Linked DNA regions of Homo sapiens. The protein of the gene in region 4 interacts with the protein of the main gene of each other region in a pairwise test. Each region holds a gene or a part of one and is shown on either strand. Other genes may lie near its edges.

The links.
Region 1: the proteins of GLE1 (region 4) and HSD3B2 interact in binary tests that used the Homo sapiens proteins (3 or more experiments, as listed by UniProt).
Region 2: the proteins of GLE1 (region 4) and ZNF57 interact in binary tests that used the Homo sapiens proteins (3 or more experiments, as listed by UniProt).
Region 3: the proteins of GLE1 (region 4) and ZKSCAN5 interact in binary tests that used the Homo sapiens proteins (3 or more experiments, as listed by UniProt).
Region 5: the proteins of GLE1 (region 4) and SNAP91 interact in binary tests that used the Homo sapiens proteins (3 or more experiments, as listed by UniProt).
Region 6: the proteins of GLE1 (region 4) and GKN1 interact in binary tests that used the Homo sapiens proteins (3 or more experiments, as listed by UniProt).
Region 7: the proteins of GLE1 (region 4) and TEX35 interact in binary tests that used the Homo sapiens proteins (3 or more experiments, as listed by UniProt).

What each region holds. Positions count from the first base shown.
Region 1 is NC_000001.11:119,413,600-119,418,427, reverse strand, and holds the start of HSD3B2 (3 beta-hydroxysteroid dehydrogenase/Delta 5-->4-isomerase type 2), read right to left. Parts: upstream 3,279-4,828; 5' UTR 3,226-3,278; intron 3,098-3,225; 5' UTR 3,009-3,097; coding exon 2,867-3,008; intron 1-2,866. UniProt on the Homo sapiens protein: 3-beta-HSD is a bifunctional enzyme, that catalyzes the oxidative conversion of Delta(5)-ene-3-beta-hydroxy steroid, and the oxidative conversion of ketosteroids.
Region 2 is NC_000019.10:2,906,822-2,911,207, forward strand, and holds part of ZNF57 (zinc finger protein 57), read left to right. Parts: intron 1-286; exon of another isoform or gene 287-338; intron 339-404; exon of another isoform or gene 405-423; intron 424-4,386. UniProt on the Homo sapiens protein: May be involved in transcriptional regulation.
Region 3 is NC_000007.14:99,510,721-99,515,106, reverse strand, and holds part of ZKSCAN5 (zinc finger protein with KRAB and SCAN domains 5), read right to left. Parts: intron 2,655-4,386; coding exon 2,516-2,654; intron 1-2,515. UniProt on the Homo sapiens protein: May be involved in transcriptional regulation.
Region 4 is NC_000009.12:128,531,649-128,536,034, reverse strand, and holds part of GLE1 (mRNA export factor GLE1), read right to left. Parts: intron 3,371-4,386; coding exon of another isoform or gene 3,344-3,370; intron 2,523-3,343; coding exon 2,380-2,522; intron 2,275-2,379; coding exon 2,084-2,274; intron 1-2,083. UniProt on the Homo sapiens protein: Required for the export of mRNAs containing poly(A) tails from the nucleus into the cytoplasm. May be involved in the terminal step of the mRNA transport through the nuclear pore complex (NPC).
Region 5 is NC_000006.12:83,551,750-83,555,994, forward strand, and holds the end of SNAP91 (clathrin coat assembly protein AP180), read right to left. Parts: intron 2,537-4,245; coding exon of another isoform or gene 2,522-2,536; 3' UTR 1,136-2,521; downstream 1-1,135. UniProt on the Homo sapiens protein: Adaptins are components of the adapter complexes which link clathrin to receptors in coated vesicles. Clathrin-associated protein complexes are believed to interact with the cytoplasmic tails of membrane proteins, leading to their selection and concentration.
Region 6 is NC_000002.12:68,977,194-68,981,920, reverse strand, and holds the end of GKN1 (gastrokine-1 precursor), read right to left. Parts: intron 4,427-4,727; coding exon 4,373-4,426; intron 4,285-4,372; coding exon 4,147-4,284; intron 3,051-4,146; coding exon 2,940-3,050; intron 2,009-2,939; coding exon 1,861-2,008; intron 1,193-1,860; coding exon 1,098-1,192; 3' UTR 945-1,097; downstream 1-944. UniProt on the Homo sapiens protein: Has mitogenic activity and may be involved in maintaining the integrity of the gastric mucosal epithelium.
Region 7 is NC_000001.11:178,519,331-178,523,716, reverse strand, and holds the end of TEX35 (testis-expressed protein 35), read right to left. Parts: intron 3,346-4,386; coding exon 3,281-3,345; intron 3,045-3,280; coding exon 2,843-3,044; intron 2,496-2,842; coding exon 2,453-2,495; intron 2,046-2,452; coding exon of another isoform or gene 1,993-2,045; exon of another isoform or gene 1,905-1,992; intron 1,393-1,904; coding exon 1,277-1,392; 3' UTR 1,067-1,276; downstream 1-1,066.

The DNA.
Region 1 (4,828 bases), on a different chromosome or scaffold from region 4:
GTTTGAATTTCAGACCTCACCTTGAAGGTCCTGGTACCTACTGGAGCTGGGATGAGAGGAAAAGGAGACAAAATCACCCTTACAGTTTCCTGCTTGGGCAACTGGGAGGAGAGTGGAGCCATTACTCAGGAATTGCAGATGGGCTTAAATGATTAATTTCATTGAGAAACTTTTATCAGATATCATAAAAAGCAGATAGCAATGCTGAAAATGAGTTAGCCACCAATGAACTAACATCTCAGCTGTCTAATGTCTAGCCAAGGGCAGCGGATGTAACATCCATATCTTCAGGCTCCTCTGAAATCCACAGGTAGTGACGCTGCCGGTAAAGTTGTCACCTGGAATTAGCCCACAAAATGAACACCATGCTACATGGAGCTCAGATAAATACTCTACACTCATTTGTGCTTTATAATCTGCATACGGCTCACAGCTTGCTTATTTCCTTTTACAGCTATCTCGTGAGGTAGGTATTCTGAGTCCCACTTTATTGGTGAGGAAACTGAGGCTCAGAGAGGTTAAGGGACAGATCTAAAGTCAATTTTCTAGTGAAGGCTCAAACCTGCCCATTCCACCTGCCATTTTTGTACCCTGTACCCCAGGTGCAGGAATAGCTGTTTAGAATCAACTTTTCTGAGAAAGAGTAAGAATAAGCCAGTTTAACTGAAAATGCCCACAAAGGCCAAAGAACAGTGAGAGCGAAATTCAGAATGAAAAATTCAAGGCTGGAGAAATTCCTTCCTGGGATACAGGTGGGACCATTTGCTCTTCTGATGCCTCTGCCTTGTTTTGTCTACTCCCAGCCCCTTCCCACTGTCAGGCAACTCCAAGAAGGCCCTGGAATGGTGGAGGCAGGGAAGAGGCTGCTGGGGAGGAGGTGGGTGTCAGCCCGAGAGTGGAATTTTCTCTGGTTGTATTTCCACCTCTACCTTTTCTACTCCCTTCATCTGCTTCTCCTTTGCTGCCGACTTTAGACAGACTGGCTCAAAGGAATTGCCATTTCATAGCAGAAGTCCAAAGCCGATAGAAAATGACTCTTCCCCGGTGAGTTTCCATGGATCTAGAGAGACCAGAAAAGCGCAATTTTTGATGGAGTCTTAGCTCCCTCCTTCTCCAAGGCACTGTGGACTTGGCAAGTGTTTCATGTAGACTAAATTCAGTTGCTTTTGTGTTGTGTGTTGGGCTGGAGGGAGGCTCAGAGAAGCTGCTAGACAAACTACTACTTAAGAGCACAGAAGCTGCACTAGACTGCCTGGATTCAAATCCAGCTTTGCCGTAATCTAACTTGGGACCTTCGACAAGTTGATTAACCTCTCTGTGTCTGTCTCCTCATCTATAAAAAAGGAGGATAATAGTATTACCCATCTCATAGGGTTGTTATGGGAAGTAAATGAGTCAGCACATGCAAAACCTTTAGCACAGTGCCTGGCACAGAAAGAACACTGAAAGGATTCTCTGTTTTTATCTTCATACAGGCCCTGCCCATCCATTATGCTCCCTGCATTTTCACCATAGCAGAACTCTTCCTCTAGACTGAGCATTGCTTTTTCCTGGTATCAGATGTTAGATTGTAAATATTGCTGAGACATAAGGATTACAAACATTTAATATCAGTCATGTGTTAATATCTGTTCACTATTAGAACAGAGAGTGGAGGAAATTGGACATTTAAAGAGGTCAGAGAAGAGTGAAAGAAGAGGAGAGTGTCAAGGGGAGCTTCTGTGTGAACAGGGCAGGACCTTCTAGGCAGCCAGAACCTGCATGAAGAAGATACATAGTTCCCCCAGTCCCCTGGGTTGGGAGGAAAACATGGAATTGGTTTGGGGCACACAGAGAGGCAAAGGGAGAGACTGAAGACCCACCAAGGATTAGCCCGGGGGTCAAGTGATGAAGCTTCTGGAATGAAGCTCTGGTCTGAGCTCTGCTACACATTAATCAGCTGTTCTTGGCAAGTAACTTTATGTTTCTGGAACTTGATGGGTTCATTGTCCAGTTGGAGGTGACCCCTTTTCTACCTTCCTCACAGGGTTATTTGCACAAAGAGTTACTACAGCAAATTCTGCAGTCAATTTATTTGGAGTATTGAACAACAGATACAAATGGTTTTTTTTTAAAAAGGCTATATATGAGAAATATAAATGAGGCATGTTGGCCTCATACTGCCTTTTACTCTGTCTCTGCTCTGTGCCGTGCACTTGTGCATGCTCTCTTTCTCTCTTTCTCTCTCTCTCACTGATGATCTCTCTCACTTTCACTCTCTCTCTCTTGCTGATGCTCTCCCTCACACTATCTTTCTCATTCATTCTCTGTCTTTCTCATTCTCTGTCTCTGACCTTCTTTCCCCCTCATTTTCTTTCTCTGTCTGACACACACACACAATTACACACACATCCGTACCTTCACTTCCTTTTATTTTGCCCTCACTAAAGATACTAAGGAAGCTATAAAATGAAATGAAGCCTGGGGCAGTCTAGACAGGCAGGACCCACTGGTGAGGTCTCCAGGTAAATGATGTCCTTTGTGAATGTCGCACAGCAATCGCCAAGACAAAAAGCTTCAGAACATAAGAGTTGTAGACAAGAAGGAGAACTCATGTGTGACTCTCTAGAAGAGAAGAAAAGGGGCCTTGAGGCTGACATGGCTGCCTCTCAAGTTCTGCGTCAGGGCCAGAATCCAGTCTCTGGACACCCCATCCAGTATCTTTCACACTATACCATTTTATTCTATTTCCTTTCTGATGACTTTAGATGTGTGACTGGCTTTCATTTGGCTACAACTTTCCTTAACTTGCTAGACAAGGTCAACCTCCCCACACCCATGCAGAGTTTAAGATGGAGCCACAGACCCATGACTCAAGTTTACTTACTAGAAAATTCCTCTCTCAATTCTGGTCTGAAGGCCTTGTCCAAGGCCCTGATCTCCTTCAGTTCCTTCTCTTCCACCAACAGGCGGACGATCCTCTGACCCAGAAGCCCTCCTGCTCCTGTCACAAGGCAGCTCCAGCCCATCGTGGCCAATCCAAAGTAGCAGGAAACACTTGCCAGGAAACAGAAGATGCTGGAGAGCAGATCTGATTCTAGCGTGACCCAGAAGAGGGCTAAAAACAAGAGGTAAAATGGTTATACACTCAGCAGATGCCTTATTTTCCTCCACCCCATTTTTTACAAAAATTCCATGACCCCACAACTGCCAGGAGTAGTTGAAAGAAAAGGAGAAAGCTCTAACCGTAACTTAGATTGTTAAAAGCTGGACAGAGGAGTCCAAGTCCTTACTGCCTCATCCCTGGAGGAAGGACTGGAGCTTTATGCTCTGTGGCTTGTGTCTCAGCCCTTATTACCTTGAACTCCTGCCACATACTCATTGCTCCCTCCTCCTCCAGAATCCCTTTTCTCAGAATAATAGTGACCTTTAGGTTATATCTCTAATTCTTCCCAGGAACAGGAAGAGAAATCCAATCTTAAGGCCACAGTGTGATAAAGAGTCTTGGCTTTAGCCTTAACAGAACACTGGTCAGTTGATACCAGCTGTCTGGGATCTGCAATCTGTGAACTTAAACCAAACTGGGAGAAGTCTCCAAGTGCAATGTAAATGTTGTCCTTGTACAGTAAATCCACCTGGAGGGAGATCTATTTTAGCCCATTATCAACTCTCTGAGAGTGTCATTTGAAACGTCACTGCTGTCTTGCAAAGTTTAGAAATTTTCAATGGTGACAGCTCCAATCACTAAGTTTTATGTGAGGTGACTTTCTTTTCCACCCAATATATCCAAAACCTCAATTGCAATTTTTCCCTGGAGAGCTCTGGGTTCCTAATGGAAGAACCTCATTGAAGGAAAGGTATCTAGTGATAACGAATTAATCATATGGCCTGTAATACAAGTGTGGGGATTTGTAGTTGTATGCCCAATGACTCTAATCATAGATATTTGCACTCATCTTACATTTTTGGCTGCAAAACCATTCTTAGCAAATTGTTGAACTGAAGATGCTATGAATGCTTCTGAAACCTATGCCCCAGTCTGCCCAAACATCACTGCCATAAACTCCCCAAGACACTTTTCTCTACTTAAAAAAATAGAGATGTAGTTTTTTTAAGTAGATGTAATCTGGGCATTACAAGGCCCAGATCTTAAGCGTTCAGTGTACACTTAAGTGTTCATTGTCAATGAACCTTGACAGTTATATATGTCCATGTAAGTACCAACGAAAAGAAGACCACCATTTCCTTCACTCCAGAAAGTTTTATCTGCCTGTTCTTAGTCAATTGCCTGCCCTCCCCCGAGTTTACCTGGTAGGCAATTACTTTCTGATTTTTATTCCCACAGAGTTCCCACTTTATTCCTATATTTTCCTAATTTTTTCTTCTAAGATCTTTGTGATTCTGGATATATATTTAAATATAAAATCATTCTGAACTGAAGTTTTGTTCATGGAGTACAGAAAAATTGACCACTGATTGTCTCTATTGTTTGTTCATTTTTCTATTTCATGATTTTCATTATTTTTATTATTGGCTTAAATGTTTATTAACTTTGGGTTTATTTTACTCTTCTTTTTCAGGGTTCTTATGATAAAAGCATAGATAATTGACTTTACTTCTTTGCTCATTTCCACCATAGGCATTTAAAGTTGTAAATTTCTCTCTAAACACTATGTTAGCTGTATCCAACATTTTGATGCATTGGGTTATCATTATTCAGTTACTGACGTTTTGAATTTTTTCTTGTGATGTCTTCTTTGACCCAAGTGTTATTGAGAAGCATGTTGCATGTTTTCTAAAACTGGGGATTTTCTTATTGTTATGTATTTCTAATTAAATATTATTGTGG
Region 2 (4,386 bases), on a different chromosome or scaffold from region 4:
GACCCGTGAGTGTCACCACCGGAGGCATCAGGGCAGCTCCGGGCAGAGAGGCACAGGGCCCGTGGGAGCCTCGGTCTCTAGTGGGCTGTGGAGGCCACATGGGAGGACAGTGTCTTGCACCAGATCCCCATGGCCAATTCACCGCCACTGGGACTGGTCTGAGATTCCCTGAGGCTGGAGCGGAGGCTTCGAGAACCTCTCCAGAGGAGTCCAGGCGGGGGGTGGGGGCGGGGCAGAGTGGAATCCTGTCGTCATTGCATTTTCCACAGAATCTAGAACCTCTGTTGTCCCACAAGTAGGCTGATTTCTGATCGCACAGATGGGTCAGAGTAAAACCTGTAAGTGAGGAATACGTTCTCTCCAAAACCCAGATAGACCTAAAAAGTGTTAGGCTTGCTCTGGCCGTGGGTGTTGATAAATGAGGTATGCTTCCTGCCTGGGCTGCTGCTTCAAATAACGACCAGAAATATGAACAAAGTGGTGGGGACTTGAGTCTAGTGGGGTGCAGCAGCTCGCCCCACCTGGAAAGTTCTGCAGCAGGCCCACGAGCCTGTCCCCGTGCCTGGCTCTTCCGAAAGCGCAAATTAAATCTCTAAAATCTAAAACCCTCTCATCCCCAAGGCCAGCTACCCTCTTGCACTTCATAATGTCATAGGAATTATTTTTCCCCCATCCTACACTTCAGTAGGATTTTCATTATCGTTATGTCACAGAGAGATCCATTCTTTTCCATTGGTTCGTTTGTCCATCCTTCTGCTAATACTGTACTGGCAAGATTGACAGCTCTTAAATCCTTGCCCTGTGTTAGGTAAGCCTTCACCCTGTTCTTCGGAAAGTTTTGGCTATTTTTAGACTCTTTTTCTCTGTTAGATTTGGAAAGTAGTTTTGTCAAGTCCTAAAAAGTCTCATTAAGAGAGGATCTCACTCTGTTGCCCAGACTGGAGTACAGTGGTGTGATCACAGCTCACTGAAACCTCCTGGGCTCAAGTGATCCTGCTGCCTCAGCCTCCCTAGTAGCTAGGACTGCAGGCACATGCCATCATGCCTGGCTAATTTTAAAAATAATAAAAAAATTGTAGACTGTGTCTCCTTATGTCGCCCAGGGTGGTCTCAAATTCCTGGCCTCAAGCAGTCTTCCTGCCTCGGCCTCCCAAAATGCTGGGATTATGGGCATGAACCACCTCACAGGGCCCCAATCAAGATTTGTTTCTCCATTGAAATCCTTTACTAGCCTTAAGTACTTATTTAACTTTGGATTTTCCCATAGTATGTATCAGCTTTTAAAAATTAATTTTCCAACTATTATGAAGTAGAAACATAATGCAATTTCTTGGAATCTTGGTAAAAATCTTTTTCTAGGATTATCTCTTTGTTCTGTTGGGGTTTTATGTGCATAATTCTTAGAAATTTGCAAAAAGACAAGTTTATGTTTTATAATTCTTGTATATTTCCTGGTGGTGCTGGAACTAGTATAACGTTGACTAGAGGTGAGGTCATGGGCGTCTTCATTTTGTGTATCATGTTTTTGAGGAAGACAGTGAACTTCACATTCTTTATGTTTTTTAAAAACCAGCTTTACTGACATATAGAACGTACAGCCATTTAACGTGCACATTTCATTGTTGTTGTTATTTTTTTGGTTTTTTTTTTTTTTTTTGAGACGGAGTCTTGCTCTGTCGCCCAGGCTGGAGTGCAGTAGCGCGCACTCGAAGCTCCGCCTCCCCAGTAGCTGGGACTACAGGCACCCGTCACCACGCCCGGCTAATTTTTTGCATTTTTAGTAGAGATAGCTAGGATGATCTCGACCTCCTGACCTCGTGATCCGCCCTCCTCGGCCTCCCAAAGTGCTGGGATGACAGGTGTGAGCCACTGCGCCCGGCCATTGGTTTTTACAGTCACAGAATCCTGCAACCAAGACCACAGTCAACTTGAGGACATTTCCATCACCTCACGAAGAAACCCCCAGACCCTTCAGTTATCACTCTCCTATTGCCCCGGAGCCCCTCCACCACCCTAAGAAATGACTCATCTGCCTCTGTCTCTAGAGATTTGGCTGTTCTTGACATTTCGTATGTTGTTTCTCTTTTTTTCCTTTTTATTCTTTTGTTCTTTTGACATTTCATATGAATGGAATCCTAATATGTGTTCTTTTCTGACGGCTTCTCTCACTGGGCATGTTTTCAGGGTCATTCATGTTTTAGCCTGTTAGAGCTCCATTCCTTACATGGCTGAGTCATATCTACTGTGTGGGCTGTACCACATTTTGTTTATCAGTTGATCAACTTTGAGTTGTTTCCACCTTTTGGCTATTGTGAATAGTGCTGCTGTGAACATTTGGGTACAAATGTTTCTTTAAATGTTTTCAAATTTCTTCAGTATATATTTAGGAGTGGAATTTCCATTTGATAATACTATGTTAACTTTTTTTCCTTATAATAGATTTTATTTTATTTATTTTTGTTTTTTTTTTTTTTTTTGAGACAGAGTCTCGCTCTGTCGCCCAGGCTGGAGTGCAGTGGCGCGATCTCGGCTCACTGCAAGCTCTGCCTCCTGGGTTCACGCCATTCTCCTGCCTCAGCCTCCCGAGTAGCTGGGACTACAGGCGCCCGACACCACGCCCGGCTAATTTTTTGTATTTTTAGTAGAGACGGGGTTTCACCATGTTAGCCAGGATAGTCTTGACGTCGTGATCCGCACGCCTCGGCCTCCCAAAGTGCTAGGATTACAGGCATGAGCCTCTGTGCCTGGCCGGTATCTTGTTTTAATTTGCATTTCCCTGATGACATGATGTGGAGCATTTTTTATATACTCATCTGCCATCTATATCTTCACAGATGAGTTGTCTTAAGGTCTTTAGCCTCCACACCTGGCTAATTTTTTCTTAATTTTAGAAATGGGGTCTCACTGTGTTGCCCAGGGTGATGTGAAACTCCTGAGCTCAAGCAATCCTCCCACCTTGGCCTCCCAACATGCTGGGATTACAGGCATGTGCCACCACACCTGGCCTATTTGTACATGCTTTACTCTACATCGCACTCTCCTGATGACTACAGCTCTCCAGAAAGCCTGGAAAATGCATAGTGTCAGTCTTCCAACTTGAACCTTCCCCTTCAATACTGTGTTGGTATTTTGAGTCTTTTACCTCTCCATATAAACTTTACAATCAGTTTGTCAATATCCACCAAATAACTTGCTGGGATTTTGATTGGGATTGTGTTGAATCTATAGATCAAGTTGGGAAGAACCAATGTCTTGACAATATTGGGTCTTCTATACGTGGACATGGAATAACTATTCACTTAGTTCTTTGATTTCTTCTGTCAGAGTTTTACAATTTTCCTAAGATCTTGTGCACATTTTGTTAGATTTATACCTGTATGTTTTATTTTAGGGCAATGCTGATTTAATTCCAGTATTGTCTAAGAGCATATGATGTACGATATTCTTTTAAACTTGTTAAGGTGTTTTATGTCCCAAAATACAGTCTAGGTTGAGGAGTGTTCCACGTGAGCTTGACAAGAATGTGTTTTCTGCTGTTGTTGAAGTTGTCTACAGACATTCATCATTGGGGGTGCTGTTGAATTCAACTCTGTGCTTATTGATGTTCCACGTGCTTGATCTGTTTCTTTTCTTTTCTTTTTTTTTTTTTTTTTTTTTGAGACAGAGTCTCACTCTGTTTCCCAGGCTGGAGTGCAGTGGCGCGATCTCTGCTCACTGCAAGCGCCGCCTCCTGGGTTCACGCCATTCTCCTGCCTCAGCCTCCCCAGCAGCTGGGACTACAGGTACTCCCCGCCATGCCCAGCTAATTTTTTGTATTTTTAGTAGAGACAGGGTTTCACCATGTTAGCCACGATGGTCTCAATCTCCTGACATCGTGATCTGCCCGCCTCGGCCTCCCGAAGTGTTGGGGTTACAGGCGTGAGCCAATGCGCCTGGCCTAATTTTTATATTTTTAGTAGAGACGGGGTTTCCCTGTGTTGGCCAGGATGGTCTCCATCTCCTGACGTCGTGATCCGCCCGCCTCGGCCTCCGGAAGTGCTGGGATGACGGGCGTGAGCCACCGGGCCCGGCCTGGTTACTGTTTTCTGTTTTTGTTGCCCTGGTTCGTTGTTCCTTATTTTGTCTTCCACTCTTTTTCTGCCTTTTTTGGTTTTGATTGCATGTTTTGTGTGATTCCATTTTTTCTCCTTTCTTAGCAAGTCAGGTATGCTTCTCTTTCCTTTTTTTAGTGATAGCCCTAGAGATATTTATTTATTTATTTGGCAGGGTCTTGCTCTATCAGCCAGGTTGGAGTGCAGTGGTACAATCATGGCTCACTGCAGCCTTAATCTCCTGGGCTCAAGCCATCCTGTTACCTCAGCTTCCCAAGTAGCTAGGACCACAGGG
Region 3 (4,386 bases), on a different chromosome or scaffold from region 4:
AATTTTATTTTTATTTTTATTTTTTATGGAGACAGAGTCTCAGTCTGGCTCCCAAGCTGGACTGCAGTGGCACAATCACAGCTCACTGCAGCCTCGAATTCCTGGGCTCGAGCAATCTCCCACCTCAGCCTCTGGTATAGCCGGGACCACAGGCGTGTGCCACCATGCCTAGCTAATACATTTTTTTTTTTTTTTGAGACAGAGTTTTGCTCTTGTCACCCAGGCTGGAGTGCAGTGGTGCGATCTCAGCTCACTGCAACCTCCAACTCCCGGGTTCAAGCAATTCTCCTGACTCAGCCTCCTGAGTAGCTACTAGGATTACAGGCATCTGCCACCACGCCCGGCTAATTTTTTATATTTTTAGTAGAGATGGGGTTTTGCCATGTTGGTCAGGCTGGTCTCAAATTCCTGACCTCAGGTGATCTGCCCGCCTTGGCCTCCCAAAGTGCTGGGATTACAGGCATGAGCCACTGCACACGGCCAATTTTTGTATTTTTTGTAGAGGTGAGTTTTCGCCACATTGCCCAGGATGGTATCAAACTCCTGGGCTCAAGAGATCCACCTGCTTTGGCCTCCAAAAATGCTGGAATTACAGGCATGAAGCTACTTTCTTTTATACCAAAAAGATCGCTAACACCTTTGTTTAGCTTTCATTGAACACGGTTGAGAATTCCAAATTTTTCATTTGCTGCCCACATTGGCAAAGAGAGGAAAATTTGAAGAGGATGACTATTATTAGGCAACTCAGTAGATGACACAGAAAGACAGCTGTACTCTCTAATGAGAATCATGAAACTGAAAGTGTAACAGAGATTCTAGAATGAGTTTCAAATGATAACATCCTAGATAAATTTTCTTAAACTCAAGAATCAATGATGAACAATGTATTTCTAATTTCAAAAAGGGAAATGGCATTCTTATCTTGTGAGTCATTCAACAGCAAGGACTTCATCACACAGTATTTTGTAATAATAAGATAATAAGAGATTCTGGACCATCACATTTTGCTAGAAGGACTAAATTTGCTAAAAGCATTGTGTGACAGTATTCTTTTCTTTTTTGAGACGGAGTTTTGCTCTTGTTGCCCAGGCTGGAGTCCAGTGCCACGGTCTCAGCTCACTGCAACCTTTGCCTCCTGGGTTCAAACGATTCTCATGCCTCAGCCTCCTGAGTAGCTGGGATTACAGGCACGCACCACCATGCCCAGCTAATTTTTTGTATTTTTAGTAGAGACGGTGTTTCATCATGACGGGGTTTCATCATGTTGGCCAGGCTGGTCTTGAACTCCTGACCTCAGGTGATCCACCCACCTTTGCCTCCCAAAGTGCAGGGATTACAAGTGTGAGCCACTGAGCCCGGCCTTGTTTTTTTGTTTTTTTAACATAAGCATTAAGACAAGAAAATCTATGAGGGAGGCTGAGCGCAGTGGCTCACACCTCTAATGCCAGCACTTTGGCAGGACAAGGTAGGTGATCACTTGAGGCCAGGAGTTCAAGACTAGCTTGGCTAACATGGTGAAACCCCATCTTTACTAAAAATCCAAAAATTAGCTGGGCATGGTGGCAGGCACCTGTAGTCCCAGCTACTCAGGAGGCTGAGGTGGAGGTATCACTTGAACCTGGGAGGCAGAGGCTGCAGTGAGCCAAGATCGCACCACTGCCCTCCATCCCAGGCAACAGGGTGAGACTCTGTCTCAAAAATAAAAGAAAGACAATCTATGACAGAAAGGCAAAAATCTGTGATACTTTTGTAAAAGACGTGTAGATCTTTTAACAGTCCCTGTACCCAGAGCTGTCATCATTTGCGTTGTAGGTTTTTAATGAAACTGGTGTAATTCAGCAATAAACATACGTGTGCATGTGTCTTTCCCAAATGTCCAACAATGATAGACTGGATTAAGAAAATGTGGCAGTACACCATGGAATACTGTGCAGCCATAAAAAATGATGAGTTCATGTCCTTTGTAGGGACATGGATGAAATTGGAAACCATCATTTTCAGTAAACTATCGCAAGAACAAAAAACCAAACACCGCATATTCTCACTCATAGGTGGGAACTGAACAATGAGAACACATGGACACAGGAAGGGGAACATCACACTCTGGGGACTGTTGTGGGGTGGGGGGAGGGGGGAGGGATAGCATTGGGAGATATACCTAATGCTAGATGACGAGTTAGTGGGTGCAGCACACAAGCATGGCACATGTATACATATGTAACTAACCTGCACATTGTGCACATGTACCCTACAACTTAAAGTATAATAATAATAAATAAATAAATAAATAAAAGAAAAAAAAAGAAGCTGGTGTAATTCCTAGCCATTCTAGGAATGGCTTTCATTGAACACCAGGGACTCAACTCCAGGTCCCTGGCCTTTCCCTGCTTCTAGACCCTGCAGGCTGTAGAGAGGCTGCTCAGCCTAGAGTCTCTCTCCCGCAGATAGTGCCTGCCACATGGCCAAGGCACCCACTCTTGAGCTATATCAGTTCCACTGAATCACTGAGCCTCACCATTTTCCTCCAGGAGACGAGGCTTCTGTGGCGCTTGCTCAGGCTGGGTGTCCACGGTCAGGGGATGGGGGCTGCAGGACTCCTGCACTGCTCCAGGTGTTGCCATCTTCCGAGGAAGCACATCAGGGCAGGCAACAATCTAACAACCACAACCAAAACCGATCAGTACAGTTACAGAGAAGGCCACGAAAGAAATCAGTAGAATCATGGTGGACTTTCATTCATTCCTTTGCCAAATATTTAATGTGCATCTACAATGAGCCACGCACTGATTATGCAGTTACTTAATAAACATGGTTTACTTCTAGTTGGAGAAGACGTTCATCAAACACATCAAAACACAAATAAATACATAATTACAAACTGGGCTGTATGTTGGAAAGGAGAAGAAACTAATTCCATGAGACAGAACACAGGAGACCTATTTTAGACTGGGAGGCCAGGGAAGGCTTTCTGGAGGAAGTGTCCCGTAAGCAAACACTTAAAGGTTGAGAAGGGCTGGGCGCACGGGGTGGCTCACGCCTGTAATCCCAGCACTTTGGGAGGCTGAGGCAGGTGGATCACTAGGTCAGAAGATCAAGACCAATCTGGCTAACACGGTGAAACCCCGTCTCTACTAAAAAAATACAAAAAAATTAGCCGGGTGTGGTGGTGGGCGCCTGTAGTCCCAGCTACTCAGGAGGCTGAGGCAGGAGAATGGCATGAACCTGGGAGGCGGAGCTTGCAGTGAGCCGAGATTGCGCCACTGCACTCTAGCCTGGGTGACAGAGCGAGACTCCGTCTCAAAAAAAAAAAATGGATGAGAAGAAGCCAGCCGGGAAAAACGTAGAAGTGACCCAGGCAGAGAGAACACTGAAACGGTAGCTCATGCCTATAATCTCAACACTTTCGGAGGCTGAAGCAGGAGGATCGCTTGAGCCCAGGAGTTCAAGACAAGCCTGGGCAACACAGTGAGACCCTGTCTCTCCAAAAAATTAAAAAATTAGCCAGGCATGGTGGCATGTCCCTGTGGTCCCAGCTACTTAGGAGGCTGAGGTGCGAGGATCGCTTGAGCCCAGGAGGTCAAGGCTGCAGTGAGCTATGACACACCACTGCACTCTAGCCTTGGTGACAGAGCAAGACCCTGTCTCAAAAAAGAAAGAAAGAAAGAAAGAAAACAAAATTCTCAGGCAGAAAGAGGATGTCTAGTACAGTCAGGAATCATGAGAAGGCCAGTGTGTGAAGAGGAAACAGAGGTGAGAAGGGAGATTGGAATGGTCATCATAGCACTCAGTAAGTCACACTGGACAGACCAACACTGAGACTGAGGCTACCTCACACCCCTTCTGTTTTTGGTTCTTGCTCAGCCCTAGATATACACAATTACTCTGCCACAACCACTCTCTAGAACCTGGAATTCTGGAAGGTACTAGCTCACTACTAACATATTGGAATGTAGTAAGTTCCTTTCCCCTTTTCTCCCTCCCTTACATTTCAAAGCACTTTTTTTTCGAATCCTCCTGCTACTGGCAAAATGTGGTGCAGGAGTTCCATTAAGAGACAGCTGCAGGCCGGGCATGATGGCTCATGCCTATAATCCCAACACATTGGGAGGCAGAAGCGGGTGGATGACTTGAGCTCAGGAGTTGGAGACCAGCTTGGGCAACATGGCGAGACCACACCTCTACTAAAAATATAAAAATTAGCCAGGCCTGGTAGCATACATCTATATAGTCCCAGCTACTCGGGAGGCTGAGGTGGGGAGGATCGCTTGAGCCTGGGAGGCGGAGAGTGCAGTGAGCTGAGATTGCACCAATGCTCCAGCCTGGGTGACAGAGCAAGATTCTGTCTCAAAAAAATAAATAAATAGGCCAGGCGCAGTGGCTCATGCC
Region 4 (4,386 bases):
AAAATTCACTGGGACAAGGCCAAAATAAGGGTGACAAATTAGAGATAAATTGCTTTTTTTTGGGAAACAGAGTCTCTGTCACCCAGGCTGGAGTACAGTGGTATGATCAAGGCTCACTGCAAACTTCACCACCCAGGTTCAAGTGATCCTCCCGCCTCAGCCTCCTGAGTAGCTAGGACCACAGGCACATGCCACCATAGCCGGCTAATTTTTTTTTTTGAGATGGAATTTCCATCTTGTCGCCCAGGCTAGAAAGCAATAGCACGATCTCAGGCAATCTCCGCCTCTCGGGTTCAAGCGATTCTTCTGCCTCTGCCTCCCGAGTAGCTGTGATTAAGGCACCTGCCACCACACCTGGCTAATTTTTTGTATTTTTAGTAGAGACAGGGTTTCACCATGTTGGCCAGGCTGGTCTTGAACTATTGACCTCAGGTGATCTGCCCGCCTCAGCCTCACAAAGTGCTGGGATTACAAATGTGAGCCACCGCGCCTGGCCTTTTTTTTTTTTTTTTGAGACAGAGTTTCACTCTTGTTGCCCAGGCTGGAGTGCAATGGCATGATCTCGGCTCAGTGCAACCTCCACCTCCTGGGTACAAGCGATTTTCCTGCCTCAACCTCCTGAGTGGCTGGGATTACAGGTGCCTGCCACCATGCCCAGCTAATTTTTTGTATTTTTAGTAGAAACGGGTTTTCCCCATATTGGCCAGGCTGGTCTCAAACTCTTGGCCTCAGGTGATCCGCCCGCTTTGGCGGCCTTGGCTTCCCAAAGTGCTGGGATTACAGGCGTGAGCCACCGCGCCCAGCCAACACCTGGCTAATTTTGTAGAGACAGGGTCTCACTATGTTACCCAGGCTGGTCTTGAACTCCTGGGCTCAAGCGATCCTTCTGCTTCAACCTCCCAAATTGTTAAAGTAATTACAGGCATGAGGCACTGCACCTGGCCCAGAGATTACTTTTTATGGCTAAAAAATAACAATATATTATTACACTCAGCATTACTATTAATATATTATTACAGGCCGGGCGTGGTGGCTCACGCCTGTAATCCCAGCACTTTGGGAGGCCAAGGCGGGCAGATCACAAGGTCAAGAGATCGAGACCATCCTGGCCAACATGGTGAAACCCCATCTCTATTAAAAGTATAAAAATTAGCTGGGCGTGGTGGTGGGCGCCTGTAGTCCCAGCTACTCGGGAGGCTGAGGCAGGATAATCACTTGAACCCAGGAGGCAGAGGTTGCAGTGAGCTGAGATCACGCCACTGCACTCCAGCCTGGGTGACAAAGCGAGACGCTGTCTCAAAAAAAAATAAAAAAAATAAAAAATATGTATATATATTATTACATATTATTACATCTGTAGAATACTTTGTTTACCAAGCACTCATATCCATCATCAAATCTGAGCTTCATGTAAGCCATGAGGTAAATTCACAGGAGGTAATAGATGTCATTACCCTCATTTAAAAATCAGGAAAAGATGCTCAAAAAGACTAAATGATTTGTCCATTTTTGCAAAGGTATTAAATGACAAAGCAGGGATAAAATTCCAAGACCCCAGTATCCTTTCCACTAAACTACATTGACTACTGGCACCTAAGTTCACAAATCCCAAAGGCTCTCCAGTTTACATAAAAGACTATGTATATATATTTTTTCTTTCTTTTTTGAGACACACTCTTGCTGTGTCACCCAGGCTGGAGTATACTGGTGCGATCTTGGCTCACTGCGACCTCCGCCTTCCGGGTTCAAGCAATTCTCGTGCCTCAGCCTCCTGAGTAGCTGGGACTACAGGTGTGCACCATTACACCTGGCTAATTTTTGGTATTTTTAGTAGAGATGGCGTTTCTCCATGTTGCCCAGGCTGGTCTCAAACTCCTGAGCTCAGGCAATCCACCCAACTTGGCCTCCCAAAATGTTGGGATTACAGGCATGAGCCACTGCACCCGGCCGAAAGACATTATATTTCTGATAGAACATTCAAGGTACGTAATAGGAGCTGTGAGGAGGGAAAAACAAATTCCAATTCTATTTATATTTCATTAATCACTCTAGGGATAGTGAGTAGGGAGAAAAACAACTTTACCTCTGATAGTCTTCCAAAGCCATTCCCTCCTTGAAAGTGGGATAGAAAGGAACAGAGTAAGGACACTTCTTATGTAGATGAGCAAGAATGAGGTCCCCCACTCTGGGGTGGAGCTCCCAGATCCCGGATGCCACAACTGCAATGGGGAATGCTGCTTCATGGTGAGAGGCCACTTCCTCCTCGCCTTGTTTCTGAGAACATAGAGGTGGGTACAATTTTAACTTAATACCAGAAAAAGGCTGAAATCTTGTACACCAGCCTCTGCTTCCCATACCTCTAGCAACAAGGTTTCTCACCACAAATTTCTCTGCCAGTTTGTATTGAACAAAGTCCAGCCCCTGTGGGTTAAGTGTGACAGACACAGAGCGCCCACCAGATTGAACAGGTTTTCCAGAGAGCAGGCTGTGGATCTTGTCAAAGATCTCCTTCAGTTTTGAGCCTGAGCATGATAGAGAGAAATTAAAAGATATAACCACAGATCAATCTCTTTTTCTTTTCCTTTTTTTTTTTTTTTTTTTTTTTTTGAGACAGTATCACTCTACTGCCCAGGCTGGAGTGCAGTGGCACAATCTTGGCTCACTGCAACCTCCGTCTCCCGAGTTGAAGCAATTCTCTGCCTCAGCCTCCTGAGTAGCTGGGATCACAGACGCCCGCCACCACACTGGGCTAAGTTTTGTATTTTTTTTTTTTTGTAGAGATGGGATTTCACCATGTTGGCCAGGCTGGTCTCTAACTGCTGACCTCAAGTGATCCGCCCGCTTTGGCCTCCCAAAGTGCTGGGATTACAGGCGTGAGCCACCATGCCCAGCCTGTTTCATCATTGTAATTACAAAGCATCTACAAAAACCCAGCTGTGCTGCCCTACAGAAATGAAGGGATAAACAGTATCCCTTACTGTACACATAAAATGAAGGGATAAACAGTATAGAAAGAGGTGTTACATTTTGTTACAGACCCCATGGACTGTGGTTGGTATCTCTAGAGGAGTTAGTCACATCTCTAGGAAAAACCTTCTAAAGGATCTAACCAGCTCATGATGATATGCCCCCTTCTCAGGACTTGCCTTCTTCCGTCCTCAGAGACACAGAAGTGGATTCGTAACAGCTATATTTGTACCAAAGATTTTGTGTGCTCCACCCCCACACTAGCTACAGTTAGATTAGAGGCAGTCAAGCTGAGCCAGTCAGTCAACTAAGAGTCACTTCCTTGAGGTAGCTGGCCCTGTGTCACATACACTCACAAGCAGTGGGGGCTGCGTACCTGCCATGAAGACCAAAGAACGGCAATCTATAAAATAAGAATGGAGATGTAGAGAGGACAGATGAGATGAGAGAGGAAAAAAGAACTAAAGTTTCTAGCTCCTGAGACCTCACCTCATTCCTGCCACTGGGTTCTGTAGGATATTTCTTTATCTTTCCAATAAATGCTTTTTTTTTTTTGCTTAAGCAGATCTGGGCCAGCACTTTGGGAGGCCAAGGCAGGCAGATCACTTGTGGTCAGGAGTTCGAGACCAGCCTGACCAACATGGTGATACCTCGTCTCTACTAAAAATGCAAAAATTAGCCAGGTGTGGTGGCGGGTGCCTGTAATCCCAGCTACTCGGGGAGGCTGAGGCAGGAGAATCGTTTGAACCCAGGAAGCGCAGGTTACAGTGAGCCGAGATTGTGCCACTGCACTCCAGCCTGGGTGACAAAGCAAGACTCCATCTCCTCCCTAAAAAAAAAAAAAAAAAAAAAAAAAAAGCAAAGCAGATCTGAATTACTTTCCATTACCTGAAGTCCTGAAGTCAATGTTTTAATTAATACAGCATCTCCAGTTGAGAAATACCCTGTCAAGTTCCTAATCACTTCAAGAAATGTCACAAAAGTTTCAGAAATATCCTGTCATTCAGTTCTCTTATCAAAAAAAAAAAAAGCCAACCATGTGGACCCCACTGGCTGAATGCCCCATCTAGCATCTAGCCTCTCTCCATACCTCTCTAGGTAGGAGGAAAGTTAGTTAGCTTCCAACCCTAGACTGACGTGGCCTCCCCATGCCACAGCAACATCATGTCCTTATTTAAGATTTCTTCTAATTCTAACCACTCATGGACATCCATCTTTTTTTTTTTTTTTTTTTTTGAGCTGGAGTCTCACTCTGTCACCCAGGCTAGAGTGCAGTGGTTCGATGTCACCTCACTGCAACCTCTGCCTTCCGGGTTCAAGTGATTCTTCCACCTCAGCCTCCCAAGTAGCTGGGACTACAGGTGTGTGCCACCACGCCCGGCTAATTTTTGTATTTTTAGTAGACACGGGGTTTCACCA
Region 5 (4,245 bases), on a different chromosome or scaffold from region 4:
GAACTTAAATTTACAAGAAAAAAACAAACAACCCCATCAAAAAGTGGGGGAAGGATGTGAACAGACACTTCTCAAAAGAAAACATTTATGCAGTCAACAAACATATGAAAAAATGCTCAATGTCACAGGTCATTAGAGAAATGTGAATCAAAACCACAATGAGATACCGTCTCCCACCAGTTAGAATGGCAATCATTAAAAAGTCAGGAAGCAACAGGTGCTGGAGAGGATGTGGAGAAATAAGAACGGTTTTACACGGTTGGTGGGACTGTAAACTAGTTCAACCATTGTGGAAGTCAGTGTGGCAATTCCTCAAGGATCCAGAACTAGAAATACCATTTGACCGAGCCATCCCATTACTGGGTATATACCCAAAGGATTATAAATCATGCTGCTATAAAGACACAGGCACACGTATGTTTATTGTGGCACTATTCACAATAGCAAAGACTTGGAACCAACCCAAATGTCCAACAATGATAGACTGGATTAAGAAAATATGGCACATATACACTGTGGAATACTATGCAGCCATAAAAATGGATGAGTTCATGTCCTTTGTAGGGACATGGATGAAGCTGGAAACCATCATTCTCAGCAAGCTATCGCAAGGACAAAAAACCAAACACCGTATGTTCTCACTCATAGGTGGGAATCGAACAATGAGAACACTTGGACACAGGAAGGGGAACATCACAGACCGGGGCCTGTTGTGGGGTGGGGGGGAGGGGGCAGGAATAGCATTAGGAGATATACCTAATGTAAATGACGAGTTAATGGGTGCAGCACACCAACATGGCACATGTATACATATGTAACAACAAACCTGCACGTTGTGCACATGTACCCTAGAACTTAAAGTACAATTAAAAAAATAAATAAAAGAAAGTTCACCATAAAAATACATATACATTTTGAAATATGGAATTTCAACTCATTTGGCAGCAGTTACAGAGACCCAAGTTTAATGAAGGCTTGTTAAAGTTGCTCTTTTTCCTTGTTTTTAATTTTTTATAAAATAATCAAAACTCTATTGGCATGAACAGCATTTTAAAATCTTCAGTATTTTGTCTGCTGTGTGTGTCATTTGAAACAGACCTTTTTCCCAAACATAATCAAAGAGAGAAACGTTATGTTTGCATTTCTTTGTTCAAGGTGTTTATTGCATCTCAGAGGGCGTACATGCACTGGGTTTTTAAACTGAAATACAAAGAAAGCCATTTTGAAATTGGTTTTAGGTAATTTTTCCCCATTACAGTGTATGTTATCCCCACAGTAAATTCAGATACAACCACTTTTAAATGGTACCATACATCTATTAAATAATTTGAAAAATAGGCAAACACCTTTCCAACCCAATATGCTTTTATGAAGAGCTGCCAAGCTACTAGCAACACTGATCAACAGTGACCTCATTTATGCATCAAAATCTTAAGCCAAGCCATCAGCACAGACAGTATGACAACAAATTAAAACTTAAAGAATACAGTATGTACAGTAAAAGATACAATTCTCTGAATTAGTTTAAATCCTAATCACAATGTTACAACAAAACCTACTTTGAGCTCAGTTGAAGGATGGAAGAACACTAGTCTACAAAACACACAAAGAAACACTAAATTAACAGATGTACTAAAAACCCACAGTAAAGTAAAGATATTTGCAGTAATCTTTAAATTACAGATATACCTTGGGGTGCCTTCAGAATCACTTGAATAGCACCTCTCTAACCGCATTTTCATGAACATGACACAAACAGACCCTTTACTTTTCAGTGCATTTAATCAAGAATGAATAAATAGGTCAATTTAGATGCAAAACCTGTCAAATATAATTAAAATATATATATTTTAATATAGCAGTGATAAATAGGGGATTCTTCCCATACGATTTTTCGTTCTTGATAAGGTAGCTTCAAAGAGAAGTATTTATTATGGACGTTAACCTTTATATTTTTTAAAATAAAATTTCTTAACATATACAGTGCCACAAAAATAAACATTTCTCACAACAGTTGAAGTTCCTGTGATTGGAAAAATGTACTCCACACTGAAAAAGTTTTGTATATTTATGAGTGTTTTCCTTATTATCTGGTATTATCACACTACGCTTGTAACAGAGATACAGAAGAAAAGATAATTTATGGGAAGAGTTTGGGGTTTGTTCAAAAGTTATATGTACATTGAAACCTTCAAAAACACAGACGTCTTTCCAAATAGCTCGCCACACAACAGCTGCATCATCTGTCCTCAGGTGAAGTCCAAAAAAGCACTAACGGCATCAGTAACATCCATTCATTGTTTACATCGTACAATACACAAATAATCCAAATACACTACAATTTCAAGAGTAGGGATAACAGCTAAGGTAGTACATATTCCTAATGTTCACTTTCACGGCTGTGTTACACATTTTGGAAGAGAAGTTATGAGTAAGTATTGGGTTTGGTACTGGTGGCTCCCTTTGAAACTCAGCATCAATCTTATTTGAAGTCTCCAAACTCATTTATTTTCCTATTCAGTCACAAATATTGCAGCTGTAAAGAAAACAAAAACTAGAATTAGAAAACAAGATTATTACATAGTCCTCAAACATTTTACCTCCCTTGCAATTTTACTTCATAGTTTCTGAAAACAACTTTTACATAAAAAGGTCTCTGCATGGACAAATTCAAATTTACATACTTTTCATAGCTCTTTAAAACAAGCTTAAAATTTTTAAAGTTTAGCCAGAAATTAAAAAAAAACTTTTGATGTATAGTTTCATTTTAGATAATAATTATATCAACAAAAATTTGAATTTAGATACATATTAGAAATTTTAGTAGCAGGACATTCGGTATAGCATTCAGTATCTAAGAGCAGCCAACCTTTAAAAAGGGCAGCTAAAGAAAAAGGGGGCATGGCAATGACCTTACATTATTTTTTCATGTATTCAGTTATGGTGTTCAATGAGTCACTTTCTAAACAGCTGAACCAGTGACAGAATAGAAGAGAACAGAGAGATCCCTGGCGACCCGATGCCTTTCCTCAGCCACTTCCCACTCATCTCCCTGGCTAATTCATGCATCATTCATTTCTGCTGGAAACATTTGTGGGGTCTTAAGGCTTAGCCGCATAGATAACTCTTCATAAAATAGTAATTCTCTCTGTGTCTCTGTCTTTGTCTGTCTCTGTCTCTCTTTCTCTTTGTCTGTCTCTGTCTCTCTCAGGCAAGGACTGTCTCAAGCATATCTGTTTCCTGTACTTATCAAAGTTCCTGGCATATGATTAGGGCAACATTTACTAAGTAAGAGGTGAATACAGGCTGCTCTATGCAGTTTCCTTGGTCACTCCTGAAACTATTAAGTGTTCATTGTCTCACTTATGTCTACATTAGCCAATCCAAAGTGGAATAGAAAAGTTGGGCATAAGGAGAGTTTACTTGACTGAGATGTTAATACCTTAGAATAATGCATCATTAATCTTGTATAAGAAAAAAAAAACAAATCAAGAATCCACAAAAATCTTAGTAGACATTAGGGAAGGGTTTTAAGAAATATATGTAGCACAGCAGGTGCATACTGAAAACAACATTGGACAAGAGTCCAAAAACACTGAGCCTCTTACAATTCTTCCCTGTGGGACCCTGGGCAAATTCCTTAATGCCCAAGGATCAGTTCTTTTAGCTGTGAAATGGAGACAAAAAATATCTGGATAGTTTATCTCACATGACTGTTCTATTGAGAAGTGGATGTGAAAAGTACCGTGTAAATTATGTTCATCCATTCAGCAAGGATTTGTTGAGAACCTACCCACTGTGTTAGGTGCTGGGGTCAACAGTAAACATTTTTCCTTCATTCGTTTCCTTCCATAACTTCAGCATGAGTCATTTCATAAATTATATGAAATTTGTGAAATTTAAAACTAGAACATTAGAAATTTAAAACTCTGCTTGAATGCAGAAATGTAAAGGGTAATAATCTAAGCTTTATGAGGCAAAAGAAGGATAAACAAAATAAAAATACAATTATGCAGTCAAATATATTCTTAGATGATTTCTAAATGCAATAGTATAAATGTTAGCTTTCTATAAATTCAAGTCATCATGTAATAAAGTGGTAATTTTCTAATTTACCAAGTAGCTTGGGCACCTTTTTGCTTTATTAAAGCTAATCGTTGTGCTTTCCAGGATAAGGACAATTTGGAGGTTACTTTCCCTCCTAGTTACATAAATTAAGATTTAAAAAACTCTTAAAGAGAGCTT
Region 6 (4,727 bases), on a different chromosome or scaffold from region 4:
CAGTTATGAAATAATATCAGTATGAGGAAAAATATAACAGTTTCATCCCAATAAAAACTGGTAAATATTAGCATTTTTCCAAATGGTGAGAATCAATGTCTTTAGTTTTATTTGTTAGGATTATTTGTGGCTATTTCACCTGAAGACATGAGAATGGATTAGATATTCCCCTATGGCACTGGGGATTAAAAAAAGATGTATGGGGGCAGCTTTGAAAAGTTAACAGTTTTATATTGTAATACACAATATTTAGAGTCTCTATTTTCTCTGAGACCTTTCACTTTCCTGGCCATCAGTGAATGGAAGTTGCTAACTTTGAGCCAAACAGGATCAAGGAAAATGGAATTGGGATTCAATATGAGTTATTACCTCTTGAACTGGAAAGACATGTAAACACGAGAGATGAGGCTGAAAATTTGGGTCAGCCATTCTGTGCCATGAGCACAAAAAAATCCATCCGCAATATGCGAAAAAGAGGGAAGTAAAATTTAGAGAAGAAGAGAGAAAAGGTAACGCGTGGCTTCAGGGAGAGAAGCAGACTTGGGTCTTGGTGTCAGCAGAGTTCCTGGATGTAGTTTTTTTGATAACCAGCTGCTTTTCTTGCCCTCAGATTTTTTGAGATATTCTTATATCCTTGCAATAAACCACCCTTTCTTGCTTATGTGACTCTGAGTGAATTTCTGTCCTTGCTGATCTGAAACGTTACTGTGCACAACAACTATAGAGCAGCCTTCAGAGCAGTTGGAGAGTATTGGAACCATTCCCAGGGTTGTGGTTAGTGGTGTCTGAAGCACCTGAAGGGGTTCTTTACAGGAGACAGGTCTTGAATATAGGCTAGCAGTTGAGTCTAATGCACTTCAACAACTTGCCACCACCACATTGCATTTTTGATCCTGTGCATTCCAAGTCATAAGAAATTGTAAGAAATGTGAGTATACACTGAATTCAATGCTAAATGATTTTATTGAAACTTAAAGAAATCAAACATAACTAGTAGAGAAAAATTTCAGAATGACATGGTAAAAACCACTGGAGCCCATATTTTTTCTGCACAGCATATTCAGATGACTAAATCCATAGTGGCTTTAAAAAATTGTTTAGTTCTCCACCGTGTCTCCACAGAAGGAAATGTCCACAATCCATAGTACACTGGTCGTGTAGCACGTTCCTGAGTAAAAAAACAGGCTTGCCTCTAATAAAGAGAAAAGAAGAAGCCTATATTAATGTCTATTTAAGGACTCTTTTCTTGGAGGGGATTGGGGGAGTAGGGGTTTCCAAACTAGCTATGTGCTAATGTCAAGGTTTATCTACTTGTTGTGATGAAATCAATCAATTCAGAGATCTGGAAAATTGCCATTAAGTTAGGTCCCTAGGTAGACACTTTGTTTGTGTGCAGCTGTTCTTTGAATGTCCAGAAATTAAGTGATTGTCTGAGCTATAGAAAGTTAATAGATTCTATTAGCATTCTTCTTTCATTTAGCCATTCATGCATTCTTTTGAATATGACTTGAGTCTACTCTTGATTCACACTTAAAAGGCAGTGTTCCATAATATTTAAGAGCACAGAATCCACAGCCAAAATGCTTGGAATTGACCCAGGCAAGGATTTTGTGACCTCTCTGTACCTCAGTTTCCTCATCCATAAAGTAGGATTAAAATAGAACCTATAAGATTGCTGTGAAGAACCGAGTTAACACACTTAAAGCACATAGAACAGTACCTGGCACAGAGCAAGCACTGCACAAATGTTGGCCTTGATGACCATCCCTGCATCACTGGTGCCCACTATGGACACGCGCGAGGATAGTCTGACAATCCCACCAGCACTAACTTGGGGTGCACAGTAGGGATGCTACTCACCTTGCATCTCCTCAGCCATGTATGTTGGAATCCCACGACACATGTTTGCAATGTTTTTTCCGAACTTGCTCAGGTCATCGACTTTGTTTGGGTTGACTGAGTACATCAGGCCCTTGGGAGGTGGTCCTCCTGGTCCCTTACCCTGAAGCTGAGTGTGGAAAAGAGAGGTAGAAAGGAAGAATGGGAGAGAATGAATGCCAAGCCCAGTGGTTTGTTGACTTGAGGGGTATACGAGGCCAACAGTGAGTGTTGCTCAGCTAAATTTTTCCATAATCAAGATGAAGAAGAGCCATTTCTAGCTTATTCTGTATATCTTAGCATTTCTAAGTGTCCTAAGGGATTTAGCTGGTTTGAAACCTCAGCTTCTCATAAACACAGAAGTCTGAGGCTTAATTTATTCTGCAACTTGGACCTCATTTGGTCATCATAGATTCCTTGGATTAGACTATGTAATAATCATCTTCTGAGAATGCAGTTTATTTATTTTCTCTACCTTGTCAATGAAAGGTACTCATTTATCAGTTATAGGAATATGAACTCAGGCAAATATTTTAAAACATTATGGATCTCTTCTTTCCACTCACCTGGATTAGTATGGCCAGACAAAATATACAATACCCAGTTACATTTGAATTTCAGATAAACAATGGATCTTTTTTTAGTATATCCCAAATATTGCATAGGATATATTATACTAAAAAGACCTGCTGCTTACCTAAAATTCAAACCTAACTGGATATCTTCTATTTTCATTTGCTAAATCTAATAACCCTAACTAACTCTTGCAGAAAAATGTCCTTGGCAAAGTACTGAGGCTCCTATTGGTGTGACCAGAGCTTTGCTCCTCTAACAGTCAAGGTTTCAAGTGCTTTGCTCAGCGGTTGTAGAGGTAGGTGTGAGCCACAGCATTTGATGTGGCAGAAGTTGCCTTCCCTCAGGCAATCACCAATAACTTCCCCCTTTGTGCTGCACACTACAACATACTGTAGTCAAGAGGGAATGACTGTGATCTTCTCGTTATTTACTGAAGGATGTAAAACCTCTCCCCTCACCAAAAATAAAAAGCCTTTTATTTTTACCTTCTTTTCCTTGACCAGTGCATCAAGGGATTGAATGGAGGGCATGACTTCCTTGTTCATTTTGTGCACAATGCATGTCTTCTTTTGAAAGAGTCTGGTTGCAGCAAAGCCCTGTTAAAGTAGATGGCAAATAGTGAGGCATGTGTTCTCCGAGGAGCTTTTCTTATCAGAGGTCAGTTCCACCTGCAGAGAGAAATGGGAACTCCAAGATCGTGATGAGCTGGGATAAGAGCACTGGATGGGGCACTGCTTGGCAATCATATCTATTGCTGACATTTGTGAGGACAGACTGCAATTCTGTGAGGGCAGAGACTGAGCATCTAACTGGTTTGCTTTATTTCCAGGTTCCAGCATGATAAAAACCCCTCTATATAAGTCTGTTTTACTGAAATAGACTTTAAAAGCTATCATGTTTTAGTCTCCTTTGATCCTCACATTTCAAGGAGACAGATAAGACAAAAATTATTTTTCCAATTGACCAGATAAAATTGAAACAATAAAGAGTTTGCTATTTAAAAGTATAACGTTTGTTAAATATATAGCTGATAATTCCAGAGTTGGGTCTCCTAACTAGTGCTAAGTGTTCCTTTCTTTGCTCCTCTCTTTCTTTGCTTCTCTTTTCCTTTCCTTCTCTCTTTCTTTCCTTCTCTCTTTCTCTCTTTTTTCTTTTTCTTTCTTTCTCTCTCTTTCTTTCTTTCTTTCTTTCTTTCCTTCCTTCCTTCTTTCTTTCTTTCCTTCCTTCTTTCTTTCTTCTTTCCTCTCTTACCAATTAATATTGTCATTTACATTTCCCGAGTTTTAGGTGAAATGTCAATTTCAATCTCTTTAGAAGGTCGTAAAACCTCCTTTGAAAACAAAGTGAGATAGTCTAAGCTTTGGAAGCAGTAATGTTGTATAAGTCTTTCAGCATTATTGAGGGTATCTGCAGGCAAGGCAAAAGGATGTTCATATTTGTTGTATATACCCACAATCCCTTGAACATAGTGTTTGTTGGTTTGAATTTTAACTGATCATGCAACACTTATTAACAGTAGTTATCTCTAGGGAACAAAATCGGATGAGCAAAATGGTCACCTTTACTTATAACTGTATGCTATGTGTAATTAGAATTTATTTTTAATTTCTTTATGGTTAACATGCACATTTTTTGTTAAAAAGAAATCGTATTTTTAAACAATAAAGTGAAAATTGCACGTTGACTACCTACATTTCCATAATCCCAGATGGAATTCCAGGAGTCCCATCCGTTGTTATTGTCAACATTGGCCACATTGTGTTCATTGTTGACACTCACTGACTGCTGCCCACTTCCAGCATTGTTGTTGTCATCATTGACGTTGATATTCTGAAGTTTATAAGAGATTGAGAGTGATTTAATATCACATTTCCTTGCAAATGCATTTTGGTAGCAAACTTGAAAAGGTGAGACTTACATAGTTAGCTAGGGCAGGAGCTAGAAAGACTCCAAGAAGTCCAGCAAAGACAATCTGAAATCACAAATAACATTGGTCTCCTGTTACATGGCAAAATGATGTCTTCTTTCTTCCTCTATCCAAGCTTATGAAAAGTATTCACTAATTTTACCAATGTGTTCAGTTCTAGTTCAATGTGTTTTTTTCTTCTCTTACCTTGCATTTTTTAACCATAAAGGTTTTAACGATAATGTGAAATTGCTGATTAATTATAAGTAATTATATTAATGTGATATATAGTTTTAGAATTTTTAGTGTAGGCCTTATGAAACGCTGGAAAAATTGATGAAGAAGGGAAGTTGAGAGCCAGGAAAGC
Region 7 (4,386 bases), on a different chromosome or scaffold from region 4:
TGTGACAGCAGCAATAGGGAACTAATACAGAGTTCTGCCCACCCTTCTTCTTTTCCCTATTTCTGATCCATTTCTGCTTTCATCACATGCTTATGATTATTGTACTTATTTCTACACGGTCCATATTGTTATTCTGCATGTTTGCCATCTCACCTTTAAAGCTATAAGCTCCTTGCAAACAAGGCCTACATGTGTTTTGAGTTTTGTTTTTTAAATATTTATCTGAAGCACCAAATACATTGCTCATTAATTTGCAGCCATTAAGAACTTGACCCGGAGAAAAGGGAATCTTTGTACACTGTTGGTGGGAATGTAAATTAGTACAGCCACTATGGAGAACAGTTTGGAGGTTGTTCCTCAAAAAACTAAAAATTGAGCTACCATAGATCCAGCAGTCCCACTGCAGCGTATATACCTACAAGAAAGAAAATCAGCATATTGAAGAGATATCTGCACTCTCACATTTGTTGCATCACTGTTCACAATAGCCAGGATTCGGAAGCAACCTAAGTGTCATCAACAGATGAATGAGGAAAATATCGTACACACACACAATTGAGTTCTATTCAGCCATAAAAAGAATGAACTCCTGTCGTTTGCAACAATGTGGATGGAACTGGAAATCATTATGTTTAGTGAAATAAGCCGGGCACAGAAAGACAAACATCGCATGTTCTCACTTATTTGTGGGATCTAAAAATGAAAACAATGAAACTCATGGATATAGAGTAGAAGGATGGTTACCAGAGGCTGGGAAGGGTAGTCAGGGGCTTGGGGGCCGGTAGGGATGGTTAAGGGGTACAAAAAATAGAATAAATTAGACCTACCATTTGATAGCACAACAGGGTGACTACAGTCAATAACTGTACATTTTCAAATAACTTAGAGCGTAACTGGATTGTTTGCAACTCAAAGATAAATGCTTGAAGGGATGGATACCCCATTCTCCATGGCATGCTTATTTCACCTTGCATAACTTTGTCAAAACATCTCATGTACCCCATAAATATATACACCTACTATGAACCCACAAAATTAACCATAATAATAAAATTCCAAAAAAAAAGAACTTGGCCAATTATTTATTAGATGGTAGAAGCAGCCAGCTTAGCAAAGAGATGAAACAAGGAGGAACTGGTGTGAAATAAAATATGAAATCCCATCATTCCTCGTCCTTCAAATTGAAGCCAAAGAATCACACCCAGGGCAGGACAGTTTCTGAAACACTGTTTGCTCTGTATCTTCTTTACTCTCATTTCAAGCTGGCAGTTAAGCTTCACCTTCCCTCAGTCTGGGACTTTGGGGCAGGCACAGCGTGGCCCACAGAAGGTTGGGTGGTCACTGGCTCCTCTCCACCTTTGTAAAGGCCTGAGGCCTCTGAAGGAATGTTCCCTTTGGGGGTGGAGGGAGGGAGAGGAAACCTTCAAGGGGGTGAGAAGGGTGGATCCCCAGAACCCAAGAAAGCTACCCAGTTCCTATGAGCAGCAGGGACCTGAGTCCTGCTTGGTGACAAGACCTCAGAGGGGTGTGGTGCAGGCAGAACTCGAGGCTGAGGGGTTCCCTGCATCACCCAAGACACCCTGGCCCCATGCACAGGTGGAGGCTGATTATGTGGAGGGAGCGGATGGGCCAGGCAGCAGGGTCTCTCCTGAGACCACACAGACTGGCGTCCGCTATCATCAGGGGCCCTCCCCATGCTATGACCTGGGACGTTTGCAGACCCAGGTGGAATGGAGGGAGGTGGTGGTTGGGAGGACCCTAAGATGACTAAGATGTAATTTCCCACCAATCCATCAGGAAGCAGGGGGAAGGGTTGGAGTCTGAAATACACTGATATAGAACCAAAAATAATCAACCTCCACACACTCAAGTTTTGGACTGGTACTCAAAACCATGACATCCCCTTTGGCTTTGAATGAAGGTTTTTAATCTCCAGTGGAGGCCTGGGGTTGGGGTGGTATTTAACAGGACAAGAAGCCCTGACTGTGCATCTTAAGGAGCTTGGAGGTGATGAATCGGAACTGCTGGTAGGTTCTGCAGCTGCGCTAGGTTGGAAACACATATTCGATGTCACCGGGGTTGAGGTACAGATAAATCAGAAGGCAGCTCCAGAAGCCAAGGGTGAAAAGGGTGCCCAGACCTGGTGTGAATATTTCCCACTGGATGGGGAGAAAGGGCAGGACCTGAGGCAAGGTCAGTTCCGCCACTAGTGGTGCACCCTCCCCACCATGGGAGCCCCAGGCAGCAGCCTCTAGGCTGGGTGACCCAAGTCCTCCTTCCTGGTGCCACATCCTGTATGACTGAGCATGCTGGGTGGCAGCATCTGCTAACAGTCCCTACTCCTGGCACAACCTCAGGAGGGGTGTGATGTGAATGCGGCTGGGAGCACATGGCCTTGGGGACAACAAGGCACCTGATCGAGAAAAGGCACATCTTGTATGAATCTACCTACCCCGATTGTAGTTGTTCTTTAGAGCACACAACAAACATTTCTCCTGCAGAGGACAGAAACGGCACAAGAAAGATCAATTTCCCCTGGTCCAAGAAGGGCAGCCTGCTAGGCACCTTATCTGCCCTTGCTAAAGGGAAGGACAGAATAAGAGGGTGGAGCTGGCGGGTAGGCCCATCCAGGGTCAAGTCCTGCATGGTCACAGCTAAGGAGGCTCCACAGGCCTAGAAGGCAAGGCAGGTCAGGGAGGGCGCAGGCTCGGGCGGCACCCAGAAGTCAGCAGCGGGCGGACCTGTCCCTTCACTATGATACAGCACAAGCTCGGGGAAGTCACCAGGGAGCCGGAGCCAGGGGTCTGGCACCAGTGCTGGGCTCGGGCAGGGTTTCACTTACGCAGCAGGTCCCACAGTGATGAAGGGGATCCAGTGAGCCCTGTTTTGTTTTTTGTGGTGCCATCGTCTTCTTGTGAAGAGCACAGGGTGCTCCATTGACTCCACTGGCTCCATCCATTTTCTTGGGCCTGAGCTGTGGTTCTCTGTGAGTCTTTCCCATCAGCCTGAGTTCCTGCTGCTCCTTTGGTGCTCTTCTAAGGGGACTGGGGGAGGAGGGCCAGGGAGGGGCAGAGAGTTGGGGAGACATTTTGCAGCATGACAAGGAGATAACCAGTACACGGGTGGCCATGGAAGGCCTTGACTCCAAGTCACAGGGGCAGTAGGAGCAAAGACAACTCCTCCAAGAGTCTGGGTGTCCTCTGAACCCCAAAGGGATCCAACAAAGGGAAGGGAGGAGACCCTTTAGGGATGAGGAGAGACGAGTGCAGGTTACACTTACAGCTTATAGTTCTTCTGTGTATTTATTAAAATGTCCATCTTCTCATCCATATCTTTCTGCATTTCCTTCGAGAGAGAATTCAGAACTAGCATCTTCATTTTGAAGGACTTTGGAAATACCTTCCTCCTGCCTCTCTGCAAACCATTCTGCATCTTACTTCCTCAAGAATCCTCGCTAGACTTGGGTGAGGTGGCTTTTGGAGTGTCCGTGACATGTACAGCTTCTCCCCTTCCTCATCCCCCTTCCCCAATGAGACGAAAGCACAGGCAGAGACATTAGGGGACTTTTCTGAAGTCTCTAGGTGAGCCAGAGGCCAGCTACTGTTTTATCTGATCTCACACTTTGGATAAAACCAATGCTTGCCTTGGTTTGATGCCTATAAAATGATGGAACCAAGAAGACCAATCTTGTGACCCCAAAGACAATTTGACTGCAATGTTTTGACCCTTGGCATGCACCCAGATCCTGCATATTTATGTTTGCTTCATCTTTTACCTAATTCCTGGCAAAGATGGTCAACAAAAAGTAAAATGACAGCAGCTAAAGGGATACATCACACGTATTATTCGCTCAGAACAGAAGGAATAATAAAATCTTGACAAAGTTTTGATCTATAAAATGTGACCTGGGTAAATTGAATGGAAATAGTGGACATGAGAAAAATTCTAAGATGGTAGAAGCTATAACTGACAATATTTGTCACAGAGAAAAACAGGTTTGGGTTGTCATAAAACAGAAATAAAAACAATTTATTCCAATAAAATAATTTTCATTAAAAATGAAAGATTTGGTAACAGTTTAATTGATGTACTATAGAAAATTGATCAAGAAATTACACCATCTGCATAGAGATGATTTCATAAAATACCTTCTTGAAAAGCATTTTTAAATGTTAGTACAAATTTGAATAAAATATTTGTATTCATAGAGTCAAAATATCCTTGAAGTCAATGTCCCCTAGGTCCAAAACATCAGAGTCAAAATGTCCCATATTCTTACACGTTTCACCAACATGTACCCCTTCAAAATCATCATGTTCCAAACTGATTTCATTTTCCCAAGCTACCTCTATCTCCCCACTGTCATTGTCATCGTCACCACTTTCT